2 separate regions of the Homo sapiens genome follow, and region 2 is linked to region 1. Evidence: fine-mapped expression QTL. Tissue or cell type: testis. Region 1 holds a variant in brackets; the other region holds the start of a gene. All regions are shown on one strand. Distances are between the middles of the regions.

Evidence for each region. PIP is the estimated chance that this variant, and not a neighbour inherited with it, causes the effect.
Region 2: FLVCR2 starts here. The variant in region 1 is fine-mapped to the expression of FLVCR2 in testis (GTEx, PIP above 0.99).

The regions. Positions count from the first base shown.
Region 1 is chr14:75,627,596-75,635,697 of GRCh38, forward strand. It overlaps FLVCR2 (FLVCR choline and putative heme transporter 2), which reads left to right. Exons shown (of 10, transcript NM_017791.3): 4 at 6,034-6,101; 5 at 7,315-7,418. Among named protein-coding and RNA genes, the nearest start is that of ERG28, 29 kb to the right of the region's middle. The variant C/T (reference allele first, on the strand shown) is at 4,715.
Region 2 is chr14:75,574,495-75,582,596 of GRCh38, forward strand. FLVCR2 (FLVCR choline and putative heme transporter 2) reads left to right here and starts at 4,126. Exons shown (of 10, transcript NM_017791.3): 1 at 4,126-5,147. The coding sequence starts at 4,479. FLVCR2-AS1 (FLVCR2 antisense RNA 1) reads right to left here and starts at 5,094. Exons shown (of 3, transcript NR_110552.1): 1 at 3,283-5,094; 2 at 1,911-2,051; 3 at 407-599. RefSeq lists an enhancer at 3,232-3,291 and a silencer at 4,002-4,071.

The DNA.
Region 1 (8,102 bases):
AATTACTATTTGACCTACCTAGCAGGTCCCCGGAAAAGCCCTATTCATAGGACATGTTGCTATTTAACCTGACTTGGAGTTTGCTAATGGGAAAAGCCCTATTGCCAGGGCATTTGTTGAAAACAGTCAATGGCACTGCTTAACATTGTAGCTGCCTGCAGTGGGGATAACAGTTGGGGTGAACAAGAGGCTGCCTGAAAATGCTGAAAGGAAACTCTGGAGAATGTGATGTCCATATGGGGTTCTTTGCCAAAAAGAAAATGATTCTTAGACTTAATCACAGATTTGAAAAAATTTTTGACGGAGGAATCATGTTAATTGCTTTACATGCATTATCTCATTTAATTTTCAAAACAAACCCATGACATAGCCCTTTGTTTCATTTTATACATGAGGAAACTGAGGCTCTAGAGTTTTAGCTTCTTGCCTATAGGGCGAGAACTATAGGCACTTACTCCAACTGTTAATCTTTGCTTTCTTTTCCTACTGTGTTTGTTCCAAATTAAAACAAACAAAAACAAAAACAATTTTTTTTTTTAAACAGAGTCTTACTCTGTCGCCCAAGCTGGAGTGCAGTGGCATGATCTCGGCTCACTGCAACCTCCACCTTCCAGGTTTGAGCAATTCTCTTGACTCAGCCTCCCGAGTAGCTGGGATTACAGGTACCCGCCACCACATCCAGGGAATTTTTGTGTTTTTAGTAGAGACAGGGTTTCACCATGTTGACCAGGCTGGTCTCGAACTCCTGACCTCAGGTGATCTGCCCGCCTTGGCCTCCCAACAAAAACAATTTTCTAAAATGCCCTCTATCAATTCAACTAGATGCTTTGAAATCCTCCAGAATTACCCCAGTCCTCCTAATCCCCTTGCAGTTTCAGATTGGACTTTGAAGAACAAAATGGTTCATACTTTTTACATTGTACACATAGTGTTCATATTTAGCTCTGAATTATATGCATTTAAAGAGCATGTGGCTAGGAATTAAGCAGGCAACAGCATTTCACAGGCACATGTACTGGACATGGGTGGACATGTCTTGGGTTAAGAGCCTTGAGTGCTGGACTCGTAAGTTCAGAGTTGGCTCATAAGAAATGGGAGGTCTGAGTTTTGGTGTCAGCTCTGCCAGATACTGAGTGTACCACCTTCATCCATCTGTGCTGCCCATCCTTCATCTCTTTAATACTCTCCACCCCCACTAGAAAACAGTAATGATACTTATTTCCCATTGGAGTGTTCTGAATGGAAGTGAAAGCTTTTAATGCAGTTGAGAATAAAGACATGGCATGCCTCCAGACTGCCAGTCTGCCATTGCCAGACTGCAATGCTATTGCATTGGTAAACTTACTGGTTTCCAGCGTTGCTTCTTTGGTCCAAACCAGATTTCACTAAGAGGGGGAGTAACTGTCCTGCAGCTGGTGGTATTGTATTTGTAGTGGCTTTTCAAGTGGTTCTCCCAGCTGATGAGTCAACTGCCCAGAACTGAGGTGCAGCGATAATTGAAGGCCTTGGAGGAAATCGAGGGTCCAAGTGTTGCTGGCTTTTCCCTAGACTTCTGGCTACACTCTTAGAGGTAGGGTTGAGAGATAAAATAAAGACCATCCAGTTAATCTGAATTTCAGATAAACAACAAATACTTTTAATATAAATATGTCTTATGCAATATTTGTGGCATATTTATACTAAGAACTATTATTTATTATAAATGTATTTATTTGCTATTTTTTTTCAAAATCTGGCAATTCAGTTTAGAGGGGGAGAGGTGCAGGGGTGGAGCTCGTGCTTGATGTTGCGGAAATATCATATCAGTAAGAAACTGCCAGTAAAACACCCTTCCTCTCTCCTTTAACTTTGGCAATGTGGGAAGACTCAGGGAACCAGAAATTCCACCTGTCTGCCAGTGTCTTTGGTGTGTTTCACAGTAGGGTAGGGTGGGATGGAGAAAGGAACCTTCCTCTGGCTACCTTCTCTTTGTGTCTCTGGTGTGTTTCACAGTAGGGTAGGGTGGGATGGAGAAAGGAACCTTCCTCTGGCTACCTTCTCTTTGTGTCTCTGGATCTTGCATTCACATGGCCTCCTCTAATGTCTTATTATCAATGGCATAACAACTGCCCTGTTGAAAAGAATTGTTGAAAAGGCTTCTCTTCTAGAAAATGGCATACTCAAAGGGCGTACTTTTCCCATAGTTATGCCCCAGACTTGCTGCCAGCAAGATTATTCATGCTTCTGAATAAACTTGCAGTGCCTCTGGCATCTGAACTCAGAGCCTCAACTTGTGTATCCCAAGGTTCACCTTCCCTTGGGGCTCTCAGCACTTTATCATTGCTCCACCTACATGGACCTAGGGAGGGGGCTTCATGCCCCCTCTAAAATCCTGGCTGAGGAGTGGGCATAAAATCCTCCAGATTCCTGGGAGCTTTGCCGAGGTCAAGCTGGCCCTTTAAAACAAGGACTAAAGGGAAACGCAGAATAACCAAAACCCAAAGATATGATCTGGGGTCAGTGTTTCCCAGACTTCCCTGAGGATAGGACCCCCTGGGGTGCTTGATTGAATGTGTGCATAGATTTCTGGAAATTCAGATTCAGAAAGTTTGGGTTGGGGCCTAGGAATCTGCTTTCTACCAGCATCCCAGATAATTCTGACTTGCAGCAGAGTTGAGAACCTCTGAGGTAGCTGTGTGATGGGTCTTGAAGCGCCTTCCCATCCCAGCTGCCTCCATGTTAACCCCACCACCTGGGAGCCTGGGTCTGGTCCCTGATCTTTTGTATCTTGAAGGCCATGTATTCTCAAATTCCAGACATTTTAACAAGTGCATTGGGGTTTTATTGTTGTAGTTGCTAAAGATGCAGATTCCTGGGCCCCATTCCAAGAGATTCTGATTCAGTAGGTCTATGGTAGGGCCTCAAAATCTGCAGTTTTAAACTTTAAGGAATTCTAATGTCAGTAGTCACCGGAACACAGTTTGAATAAAATTGTTATTGGCTGGGCTTGATGGCTCACACCTGTAATCCCAGCACTTTGGGTGGCCAAAGTGGGAGGATCGTTTGAGGTCAGGAATTCAAGACCAGCCTGGTAAACATAGCGAGACCCCAAAGAAATTTTTTACAAAGAAAAAAATTGTTTTTGACAAAGGAGAGAAAGAGACTCAGAATGATGACAGAGTCCTTTCTGCCTCTCTAAAGCCTGCCTCCTCAGTAAGTGGCACTACTCCCAGGTGACTGATTCCAGGAATGACCAGGCCTTTCAGGGAAGATCACATTTTCTCTTCCCTGGCCCAGCAGGCTCACCTTGCTGAGGATGATCAGACCTGAATAGAATGCAGTCACCTGTACTCCTGTAAGGGGTACTCACACAGGAAGGAGCATGCATTTCATTCCTGCCCTTCTGTGTGGGATGCCCAACCCCTTTGTTTTGGCAGTAGAGTGGACTTACGCTGGTTAACTGTGTCTGGCAAACTTTGACAATATGGTGAGGGACATCTAGACCAAAGATGGATTCAGAAAACATACATAAGCTCCTAAATCCTCTAAGGTGGGGCTGCAGAAACAGTGGAACAGATTGGCAGCCCTCCAGGATGAACCCCTGCTCTTCCTTCCCTCTCGCCGCCCTTTAGCCCCGCTTCAGTCTGCTGTCTGGCCTGGAGCAGGGATGGCTGTTGTTTAACCACATTGCTCTAGGGAGCCAGTGCTTCCACCTGGAGCACGATCAGAATCACCTGGGAGGCTTATTCAAATGCAAATTGCCGGGGGCCTCACTCCCAGAGTTTCTGCTGCAGTAGGTCTGGGGTGGAACAGAGACCACACTTTGGAAACTATTTCACTAAACCATTGAGCCCCAGAAAAACCACTCAGCTTCAGCAGTATGGGCCAACCTGTTCAGGACTCTGTTCCCCAGGTCTTTATCAGGACCAGTGAGCACTGGTGTATTTTTTTTGCTCCCAGTCCTTCTGGATAATTTCCTTTCTTTTTCTGTGGATTCTGCCATCCTTGGCTCATCCCAGTTAGCAAAGCAGCTGTTCCCCTGAAGCTAAGCCTGAGTTGGAACATTCCTTGCCCTTTGCAGTATCAGGCTAGGGCAGGCAAGAGGCTTAGAGAGGAGCGGGAGGAATGAATGGGAAGACGGGAGGAGACTATTTTCTTTCTTCTCCTTCCCACGCTCCACCTCACTTGGCTTTTCAGGAATGTCTCCTTACGGGATCTCTTCACTCGGAAATGGACTTTCTAAGTGGCTGAGTATGTACTATGAAGGGCAGATGGGAATGCTGCTTGAATGAGATGTTGCTGAGAGCCTCATGATCATTGCAACCATCAGCCTGTCAGTTGTAGTGATGTTTGGGGACATGTCTGGGTTGGTTGGCCCACTGTGGCTCACTGTGCTGCTCACTGTGTGCACAGTTGGCCCACTGTGCTGCTCAGGAGACTGCATTGAGCCCAACCTTGTAGCATCCCTGGGGTGAACTGCTGGGAGAGGCTGGGACATGAGGAAATTGTTCATGACCTGAGCTGGGAAAATCTGATTCAATAATCAGCTTTGTGAGGATGTAAAGCAGAGTGATTAAGATCAAGAAATCTGGAGCCACAGGGCCTGAGTTCAAATCCAGCTCCATCACTTAATACCTGTGTGATTGCAAAGCAAATTATTTCCCATTTTGCAAGATAATTTGACCTTCGCTTAACTTTGTATCTTTTACTCCCTGGGAACCTGATAAAGGGAGTA[C/T]GTCAACTACCTTTAGGCAACATTGCTTATGATAAAAATGTCCTCTGGTGATACAAATGGACAGAGAGACCTATTCATTCTTGTGGGAAGCCATTCTTTGTGCTTCTTGGAGTACAATGACTCTTTTCACTGGCCTGTCACTTATGGGGCCCCTGGAAGCTACCCCTACGGAATTGTTACAAGTAATAGTGGTGCCTGTGAGCATTAAGCCAGGGTGGTTGCCATACCCACCTTCCCTTGCACCTTAGCCATCATCTGAAAGACAGTAGCTTCCGGAAGGCTATATGAACTGGGGTTCTATGGATTGGTTCCATTGAAGAGGAACTCCTGAGGCTGCCCTGTCCACAAGCTATGTGTCCTGACTTACACCCTTCCAAGTAAATCTAATATGGAGTGTGCCGGTGGTAGTCTTGTGAGCCTCAATGTTTAGTTAAAGTTAGAAAGACCCCCGGTGGGCATTATGGAGTGGCAGTACTTATTATTTTAACTGTGTGTGCATCTTTATTATCTCTAAAATGGTGACGATAATACTACCTACTTTCTAGAGTTGTCATAAAGTGTCTAATCCATAGGTATGTGCAGCCGCCATTGTCATCATCATCATCACCATTGAAGGGAGGCCAGGAGGCCTTTTCTCCTTTGGGTCAGTTCCAGTCTCAGCTACTCACTTGCTGTATGACTTTGGGCAAATGACCTTATTCGCTAAAGATACAGCCTTTCACAGCATATTCTAGGTGCTCCTTTGGTGAATGAATTGGTAAAGTAGGAGAGTCAACTGAATGCTCTTTAGGATCTCTTCTAGTTTCATGTAATAGATTTTGTGTGACATTGAATCAGCAAAGAAAGTTGGAGGAGGAATGGAGAAAGAGGAGAGAAATCACCTGCAGAGGGATGGTGTCAGATGTCAGAGGTCTGGAGCAGCCTCAAGAAGGGGCAGGGTCATCAGGAAGAGGAGGGTGTCCAGGACTTCTACTGACCACCCCTTAGATCTACCCAACGCTTAAGAAGAATGTAGATGACTCTGCCCTGGGAGTAATACTCAACAGAATCTATTTTCCAGGGCAAATTAAAGGGATCAGAGAGCAATAGTGTGTGGCTAAGGGAAGGTTAAATGGTTACTTTTGGTTGTTTTGAAGTATTTCTTTGAGAAAACTGCAGAGTAGCCTCAGACCTCCCTGGAGTTTTCTTCTCTGAGGATACTGCTCAGAGTGGCAGTGAGATGAGGATTTCTGCCCACCCCCCAAATGCTGGGGGAGAAGTTAGCAATGGCCCCAGAAGAAAGCTGACCCTAATGTTGTATTTCTCGCTCCCTTCTTCAGGTCTGAATGCTGGTGCTTTTTATGCCTTGTCCACTCTTCTGAATCGCATGGTGATCTGGCACTACCCGGTAAGGGAGTTCCCTAAGCATGTTGGGCCTCAAGATGATATAGTTTCTAAGTCTGTCTTGGCAGGACCTGGGATGACCGTTAAGTCTTCATTCCCCCCAGTTCTAGGTAGGGTGATATGGTGGTATGCTTATGGGATTTGGAGGGAGATGGCCCTAGATCTCAACCCTAGCTTTGGTGTTACTAAACTGTGTGATGGCTTGACAGTGTGACAAGCTAGTTAGTGTTTCTGAGCTCTCATTTTTTTTTTTTTCTGCAAAAGAAGCATAATTGCTTCTTGCAAGGTTCTTTTTAGGATCAGAGAGTAAATAATGACGCTTGTGTATGTATACATAATTATATGTGATACATGTATTTATTATACAGCATAGTGCCTGGCAACACTGTTGGCAAATATATATATAAAATATTTCTGAATTTAAATGTTTCCAGAACCCACGAGGGCTGGGCTGGATGCTGGGAATGGAATACTGAGTGGCCTGGAGTCAGGAATACGGAGATGCAACCCTCTTTTGAAAGGACTAGGCTCTCACACTTGCAGAAGGGGTAGACTATATGGCTAAGTGTCCTAGTTTTGGAGTTCAAAGGCCTGAGTTCAGATCCTAGCTTTGAACTTAACATATGCCTTGTGACCTTGGGCTAGTAGGTTAATTTCATTGTGCCTGTTTCTTCATCTGCAAAATGGAGAAGACTGACTCCTAACCTTATGATGGGGAATGGCGAGGAGTAAATGAGATAATGATATAAAACCTTAGGCATGGTGCCTGGCTTATAGTAAGCACTCAAAAATATATAACTATTATCTTTCCATTCCTCTTGGCATTGATAGTTCAAAAAAACCTAAGAATGGAAATTTTAACATATATATTTTAAATTCCCCATCTGTGAAATGGAATTAATGACAGATAAGATAGAAGAGTTGCTGTGAGGTTTACATTTTTTAAAAAATTTGCCTAAAAGTAGTTCTAAGAACAGATTTGGTTCATCCTTGTCACTCCAGCATCCAATATCATGCACACACAGTCAGGGTTATATTGTTGGGAGGAGTAGTTATTCTAGAATTTTCTCCTAGGCCATCTTGTCCCGATATGTTCTGAATATTGACTCTGATGGAGCTTGAGTTACCTGCCTTTGTTCCTTCACCCCATGGTGACTGTGCTCTGTCCTGGGTCTTGTCCCATCGCCGGGTGATCTTTGGGGTTATGGTTTCCCCAGGGGGAAGAAGTGAATGCTGGAAGAATTGGCCTGACGATCGTCATTGCAGGAATGCTTGGGGCTGTGATCTCAGGAATCTGGCTGGATAGGTCCAAAACCTACAAGTAAGTGACTCATCCTCTTGGACTGAGAATTGGGGACCTGTTTTTTGAAATGACATATTCATAAGCAGTGTGACTCCAAGTCATTGTTTGGAGATCCTAGTGGCCAAGCAGGTCATTCAAGTTTGACTTCTCTGAGCCTCACTTTCCTCATTTATCAAATGAGGGAAGCTATACCCGTCTTAAGATCCCCACAGGATCTTAGGAAGATGGGAGCTACTGGACTTGAAGGCCTAGCATAGTCCTCTTCCCCATCCCCACTCTCTAAGTAGCTTTGTGAAAGCAGCAGAGGAGGGAGAAATGAAAATGAATGGGGAAAAAAAATCTCAGCGGTGGAAAATTTGTGGAAACCCCAAAGAGTGGAGATGAGGAGGAGGTGATTTCACTCTCCTGTTCTCATGGCACCTTGTGGACCCCATGGGGTTGACCAAGGTACTCTGAGCTTTCTCCAGTTTGCAGTGTATATTATTGTGCAATTATTTATACCTTGTTGGTAAATATTATAACTTACTTTGGACCTGAATGCCCAGTGCATTTCTAAGAGCCTGGAGCTATTTTAAAAGGTTTTATCAGGCTGGGCGCAGTGACTCACATCTGTAATCCCAGCACTTTGGGAGGCCGAGGCAGGAGGATTGCTTGAGTCTAGGAGCTCAAAACCAGCCTGGGCAACATGGTGAAACCCCATCT
Region 2 (8,102 bases), 53 kb before region 1:
CTCCCAAAGTGCTGGGATTACAGGCATGAGCCACCACGACCAGCCGAGTACACTGCTTTTTATGCCTGGTAGATAGCTGTCTACCCAGGAGTTTCCTTTAGCTGGGTGATTCCCATTGTTTGCCTTTTGTGGCGGATTCCCGGTTTCCTCAGCCTTAACCTCTTCCCCTCTCTAGGTTTCCTTCCTTGTTTTGGTGGAGCACATCCTTCAGCAGCTTCCTGAGAGAGAAGATAAGGCAGTATCATTTGTTGTTTCACTCTCTTCTCAAACTGATTTTTTGGTAGTTTGGATATAGCATTCTAGGTAAGAAACGGTTTTTCTTCAGAAGGCATTGTTCCACTGACTTCAAATTTCCAGGCTTGAGGCAACTGTGTTGATATTTTGTATCTGGTTTTTTTTTTTTAACTTTTTCTGATTTTTTAAAATCTCTGAAATCCTGTTGGATCTCCTCTTTGTCTCCAGTTTTGTAAAATTTCATGGTGATATGCAGTACAACTCAATTCTACAGATACGTATTGAGAGCGTGTGTTACATAGTTTATCTCACTAAACACTCCAAAATATACAAAAATATCCACAAGTCCTGAGACAGCTAGAAATCTGAGGGAAGTGGGGGAGATAAGGCAAACAGAATATTGATGAGCATGTAGTATCACACATATAAATTATGCATGTAAAACTTGTAAGGGCAACATTTTCACAAATTCCAAGTGTTGATATTTTTAAGAAAGAATAATGCCGGCTCCCAACCTGATTCATTCTGTTAGAAATTTGGCCTTCCCCTGCACTCAACAAACTCCTTACCTCTTAAATCTATAGCTCTGTTTGGCTAGTAGTAAGCTATAAATAAGAGGGTGATGTTTTGGCTTTGAATCCAGGAGTTGCTGATAGCCTCCAGTGGGCTGACTTAACTATCATTCTGCAAGAGGCCACACAAGCTTGAGTTCAATGCCAGAGGTTCGTTCCCTCAAGCTTCCTAAGGTGTCAGTTGGAATAGAGCCAGGAACCAGGAACCAGAGCCCCCTTTCAGGAAGCAATCCCTAAAATGTATTTCTCCTTACCCTTCAAAGTGTACCTATAGGTACTGATAGATAGAACATCATAAAGATAGATATGCTACATAGTAAGAACATCATAAAGATAGATATGCTACATAGTAAGCTGCTCAATACATGTTTTTTCAATGGGATGAATACAGAATATTTCTCTCTATGTAGTATCTACCCAATATTTATAGAGATGACCCCAACACCCTACCCCCCACATTAGGAATCAGCCAAGAGTCATCCCTACCCTGGTGGCTCCCAGAATATGATCATTATTATTGAAAACAGTTTATGCATATTAGCTTGTTTAATTCTCACAGCAATTCTATGAGGCAGGTTTTTGTTTGTTTTGTTTTTTTGTTTTTGAGACAGAGTCTCGCTCTGTCTCTCAGGCTGGAATGCAGTAGTGCCATCTCAGCTCACTGCAGCCTCTGCCTCCCAGGTTCAAGTGATTCTCCTGCCTCAGCCTCCCAAGTAGCTGAGATTACAGGCATGTGCCACCACACCTGGCTAATTTTTGTATTTTTAGTAGAGACGGGGTTTCACCATGTTGGCCAGGGTGGTCTTGAACTCCTGACCTCAAGTGATCCACCCATCTCGGCATCCCGAAGTGCTGAGATTACAAGTGTGAGCCACCGTGCCAGGCTGGAGGCAGGTATTTTTAATCCTTATTTGATAGATTCAGAAACTGAAGAATAGAGAGGTCAAGTGACTTGCTCAAGATACCAAAGCTAAGAATGACAAAACAGAGCTTCAAGTCTAAGCAGACCCAACCCAGATCTCACAACAGATCCAGCTCGTTCCACCACAAAAGCAATTCCAAATCTCACTTGAATCCCAGGTTAGACCCCTTGGAATCTCTCACCAAGCTGAAGGGCTGCCCCAGAAGAGCTCATGGGAAAGGCCACGTGGAAGGAGCACCCATTTTATTGCTGCTTGTTCTGATGCTATTTCACTATAGGACGCTGAGTAACACACCCGCCTCTCCAGGCCTCAGTTTCCTTATCTGTAAAATGAAGTTAAGAATATATTATGAAGAGTTTTGGAAGAGGCCCATGATGACCGAGGGAAAAGAAGCAGTGAGAGGTCTCAGAAGGCCTTCTAAAAGAACAGAGTTCTGTGCTCCCTGGAGAATGATGGGAAACACAGGAGGAATAGTGACAATACGAGATGTTAAATTACTGTAGAAATTCTTAGATCTGAGTCTGAACTCCCTCTCCAAATATTCCATTATAATCCAAGACTCTATAGTTTCTACCAAAAAGTAGGTGCCTTCAAGCAGGGAGTGATCATTTGAATCTAGTTCTCTCCTGGGAATCAGTGGTTCTAACTTGGCTGCACGTTTGGATGACCAGCGGAGCTTGTGACATGCAGATGTTCAGGTCCACCCTCGGAGATCGCTAAATGGGGTGTTGCCCGAACACTTGGGATATTAAGAGTTTCTTCATATGATTCTAATGTGCAGACAAAATGGAGAGCCACTTCCCAGAGCTTCAAGTTATTCATTTTCTGGTCTGAAGTTTAACAAAGAAAAAAAAAATAAAGAAGCAGTGATGCCCAGTAGCTCTCAAAATTTAATGTGTAAACAAATGAATCTCCTGGGCATCTTGTTAAAATGCAGCTTTCAATTCAGTGGGTCTAGGTTGGGCCTGACAACCTTCTTGGTTGTTTTGTGGTTGCCGTTTTGTTTTTTAAGGCCTTAACACTGGAGGGGATTCTGGCCTTCTAAAAAGCTCCCACAGGTGCCCACGCTGCTAACCACAGACTGTGCTTGAATAGCTAGGCTACAGCTTGAATGATTACAGACTTGAACGAGAATTATGGCTCTTCTTGCCAGCTGGGACCTTCAGAAAGAAGTTACTTCACTTCTCTGAGTCTGGGTTTTCTTGTCTATAAAATTTAGGCCAGCAATAGTAACTTTATCACAGAATTCTTGTGATGCATAAATGAGCTAATGCATTCAATTTGTTTAGCACTGTACAACAAATGTTAGCTTTTTGCTAGGATAGCCAGCATTCGCGGAATGCTTACTATGTGGCAGGAATTTTCTAAGTGCATTCGTGTATTAATTCATTCAAGTCTCAGAACAACACGGTGAGGTAGGTACTATTATTTCATCATTTCCATTTTACAGATGAAGAAACTGAAGCGCAGAGAGGTGGAGTTCCTTGGTCTACAGTGGCACCTCATTGTAGCTAAGCTGGTGTTTGAACTCAGGGAGAATTTGGGCTCCTTACCAGGATCCCTCGCCAAGGACAGAGGTCAGTGCAACGAGTCGAGGGTTTGCCCTTTGAAATGGGCTAGGACCGGCAGGTGGCAGACTAGGGCTGCTTGAGTTCAAAGACCGCTTCCAAGACCAAGCCCGGAGCCAGCTCTGTGCTAAGCGTTCCATCACACAACCGCGGACAGCTTCTTCGGCTTCTTCAAACTCTCCTTTCCCTCCCCCGCACCCTAGGGTCTTCGCCCAGAATCCATCAGGAAAAATAGCCCCACATAACAGGTTCAAATCTAACCTCCCCAAGACAAAACCACGTCCGCAGGGAAAGAAGCGAGTAAAGCGAGTTTTCTGTAACTCCCCTTTAACCCAGGAGCGCAACCAGCCCGGGAAATCTACAAATCTCTCTTTAGTTCAGCAAAGGGCTGGGAGCCTAAGCCAAGGGGGAGAAAGTTGGGGAATCCCTCTTGAATTCCCCAGAACACTTAGGTGGCGCCGGGCTTTGGTGCACGCGCGCAGGGCATGCGGACAGGCACCGGAGAGGCTCTATTTTGGGCATTACTTCGGGAAGGCGGATCTTCTTGCAGGGTCCGCTGATAGCGGGTGGCAAATGAATATGAGGGGCAGTGCAAAGGGTGGGGGTTAACCGGGCGGTTTCCATGGCGCCCGGGGCGTGGGGGAGGAATGCATCCCGCAAGCTGTGGCGAAACAACTGCTCTGCCCGGAGGACCGGGCTCGAGAAGGCAAGAGACACTGGGTCGGGGGTGGAGTGGTGGCGGGGGGGTTGGGGGCGGAAGAAGCCAGGCAGGACGGGGGCGGGGCGGTCACGTGTGCCCGACTGGGCGAGGCCCCAAGCTGGCCCGGGAGAGGACTCTGCGGGCGAAGTGGCTGCGCAAGGAGAGAACTTTTCCTGCACAAGGAACGCCTCGTGGGGAGACCCAAGGCAGGAGCGGTCCGGAGCCGGCTGCGGCGTGTGCGGCCGGCCTTGGGACAGCGATCGCCGCGGGTGGCAACAGAGAGCCCCAAGCAAAAGTGGGAGCAGGAGCTTGGAGGTGAGCACAGGAAGCCCCACTTGAGGCTTTTACGCAGCCTCTAGTCTCTGTTTCTTCTGGAATAGGCAAGTGTCCTTTCAACTCTAAGAGACCAGCAGAGGCCACTGTCCCTTAAGACTGCCGGAGTCCTCACCACTTCTCCAGGATTCCAGAGGAGACTGTGGCGATGGTGAATGAAGGTCCCAACCAGGAAGAGAGCGATGACACCCCTGTGCCGGAGTCCGCACTCCAAGCGGACCCCAGCGTCTCGGTCCATCCCAGCGTCTCGGTCCATCCCAGCGTCTCCATCAACCCCAGCGTCTCTGTCCACCCCAGCAGTTCGGCCCACCCCAGTGCCTTAGCCCAACCCAGTGGCTTGGCTCACCCCAGTAGCTCGGGCCCTGAGGACCTCAGCGTGATCAAGGTGAGCAGGCGCCGTTGGGCCGTGGTCCTGGTGTTTAGCTGCTACTCCATGTGCAACTCCTTTCAGTGGATCCAGTACGGCTCCATCAATAACATCTTCATGCACTTCTACGGTGTCAGTGCCTTTGCCATTGACTGGCTGTCCATGTGCTACATGCTGACTTACATCCCTCTGCTCCTGCCAGTGGCTTGGCTGCTGGAGAAGTTCGGCCTGCGCACCATTGCTCTCACTGGCTCGGCTCTCAACTGCCTGGGGGCCTGGGTGAAGCTGGGCAGCCTGAAGCCGCATCTCTTTCCGGTCACCGTGGTGGGCCAGCTCATCTGCTCTGTGGCCCAGGTTTTCATCCTGGGCATGCCCTCCCGCATCGCTTCCGTCTGGTTCGGGGCTAATGAGGTTTCAACAGCCTGCTCCGTGGCTGTCTTTGGCAATCAGGTAGGTAGAACAGTTTGTGAATGTTCCCAGGGGCGTGTGTTAGATTGCACCTAACTATTGGGTGTGGTAGGCTATAATTTGCTGATTGTCCAACAGTGTTTGTGACTCTGGGTGACAGTAACTGGGTGTGACAGGCAGTGATTGTGATGCTGTAAGAGAGGCGGGAAACAAAAGCAGGGGGACCTGCTCTTTCATCCACAGTTGCTCTTGCCCCAGCCAAAAGCATGCTTCTAGAACATACTATACCTTCGCTGTGTCGTTCTCGAACCTGTGTCAGTCCACCAACTTAGACCTGTAATTTCAGGAATGCTCTTCTGTCTGGCAGCAGCCCCTGGGCATCAGACTATTCTGGTGTCATCAGAACTTGGCAGTGCTTTCAGTTGGACCAACCAGCTTTCCTAGAGTGCAGTATCTCCTCTACTGCATAGAATTGCAAAGCCATGCCTGGTGGTGTTTGGCACTGCTTTTACCTTGTTTTACACACAGCTGAAGCCAGGACAGTGGGAGCAGTGCTTTGTGCCAAACTCCTTGCCTGGGATTTAGAGCCAAGTCCAGCAGGATGGAGTAGAAATCTCACTCTGAGTTTCCATGGCCTAGAAAGGGTAGTTCATGTCTTAATCTTTTTCTCTTTCTTTCTTATTGGAAGGAGAAGCTCAAATTCTTTGCATCTCAATGTGGTTATGATCCAGAAAGCTGGGCAGGTTGTGAACCTGAATGCCGTCTCCAAATACTCGAAGCAAATATTTATGGGAATATTTAAAGCAAACGTCCTTTAGCCAGACCACTGCCTCCCAGTCTCGCATCTTTCCAAGCACGTACAGTCCTGGCTGTGTGTTTAACAAAGGATTGGTAATCCTGTCTCACACGTCCATGTGAAGAGACCACCAAACAGGCTTTGTGTGAGCAACAAGGCTGTTTATTTCACCTGGGTGTAAGCAGGCTGAGTCTGAAAAAGGAGTCAGCAAAGGGTGGTGGATTATCATCAGTTCTTATAGGTTTTGGGATAGGTGGTGGAGTTAGGAGCAATGTTTTTCAGACAGGGTGGATCTCAAAGTACATTCTCAAGGGTGGGGAGAATTACAAAGAGCCTTCTTAAGGGTGGGGGAAATTACAAAGTACATTGATCAATTAGGGTGGGGCGAAACAAATCACAATGGTGGAATGAAATCAGTTAAGGCTATTTTCACTTTTTTTGTGGATCTTCAGTTGCTTCAGGCAATCTGGATTGCCTGAAGCATGCAGGTCACAGGGGATAGGATGGCTTAGCTTGGGCTCAGAGGCCTGACATTCCTGTCTTCTTATATTAATAAGAAAAGCAAAACAAAATAGTGAAGTGTTGGAGCAGCGAAAAATTTTGGGGGTGGTATGGAGAGATAATGGGAGATGTTTCTCAGGACTGCTTCGAGCGGGATTAGGGGCAGCGTGGGAACCTACAGTGGGAGAGACTCAGCTGAAGAACGGTTTTGGGGTAAGGGGTGATACTGTGGGGTTGTTAGAAGAAACATTGGTCGTATAGAATGATTGGTGATGGCCTGGATGCGGTTTTGTATGAATTGAGAAACTAAACGGAAGACACAAGGTCTGAAAAAGAGAAGGAGAAAAACAGGTATTAAAGGACTAAGAATTGGGAGGACCTAGGACATCTAATTAGAGAGTGTCCAAAGGGGTCCAAGGGGATTTAGCATAATTACTTGTTTGTTTGGTGAGTTTTTGGGCTCTATTCTTGACAGAGTCCTCTTTTTTAAGTTTGAAGCTGAGCTTGGTGAGGTGTGTTTTTAAAAGACCGTTAGTCCATTCTACCTTTCTTGAAGATTGAGGACGGTAAGGGGTATGAAGGTTTTACTGAATACCAAGAGCCTGAGAAACTGCTTGGGTGATTCCACTAGTAAAGGCTGGTCCGTTATTGGACTGTATAGAGGTGGGAAGGCCAAACTGAGGAATTATGTCTGACAGAAGGGAAGAAATGACCGCAGTGGCCTTCTCAGACCCTGTGGGAAAGGCCTCTACCCATCCAGTGAAAGTGTCTACCCAGACCAAGAGGTATTTTAGTTTCCTGACTCGGGGCATGTGAGTAAAGTCAATTTGCCAGTCCTGGGCGGGGGCAAATCCCCAAGCTTGATATGTAGGGAAGGGAGGGGGCCTGAACAATCCCTGAGGAGTAGTAGAATAGCAAATGGAACACTGAGAAGTGATTTCCTTTAGGATAGATTTCCATGATGGAAAGGAAATGAGAGGTTCTAAGAGGCGGGAACCCACATGGAAGAGGTTATGAAATGACAACAGAATAGAATGGGCCTGTGAGGCTGAAAGGAGATATTTTCCTTGGTCCAAGAACCGTTTGCCTTGTGTGGGAAGAGATTGGTAGGTTGAAGTTTCAGTGGGAGAGTAGGTGGGAGTGACCGATGAGAAGGAGAAAAACTGGCCGTGAGGGACAGAAGTTGTAATGCTAGCTGCTTCTTTAGCTACCATATCAGCATAAGCATTGCCCTGAGTGATGAGATCTGATGCCTTTTGATGGCCCTTGCAGTGTATGACTCCAGCTTCCTTTGGAAGTAAAGCAGCCTTGAGAAGAGTTTTTATTAAGGAGGCATTAATGATGGAGGACCCTTGCATAGTGAGGAAACCTCTTTCAGCCCATATAACAGCATGGTGGTGTAGGATATGGAAGGCCTATTTAGAGTCAGTATAAATATTGACATGTAGTCCCTTCGCAAGAGTGAGGGCTCGAGTTAAGGCAATGAGTTTGGCTTGCTGAGAGGTAGTGGAGGGGGGCAGAAAGTATATGCATCAGGTGTGAGGAAGAAAATAGATTTTGGAAGTTATGAGAACTGTAGAGAGTGAGTTGAGCATAGTTTGTGATTTTGAGGGCCTCTAAAAGTATTAGGGCAGTGGCGGCTGCCACACGGAGACATGATGGCCAGCCTAAAACAGTAAGGTCAAGTTGTTTGGACAGAA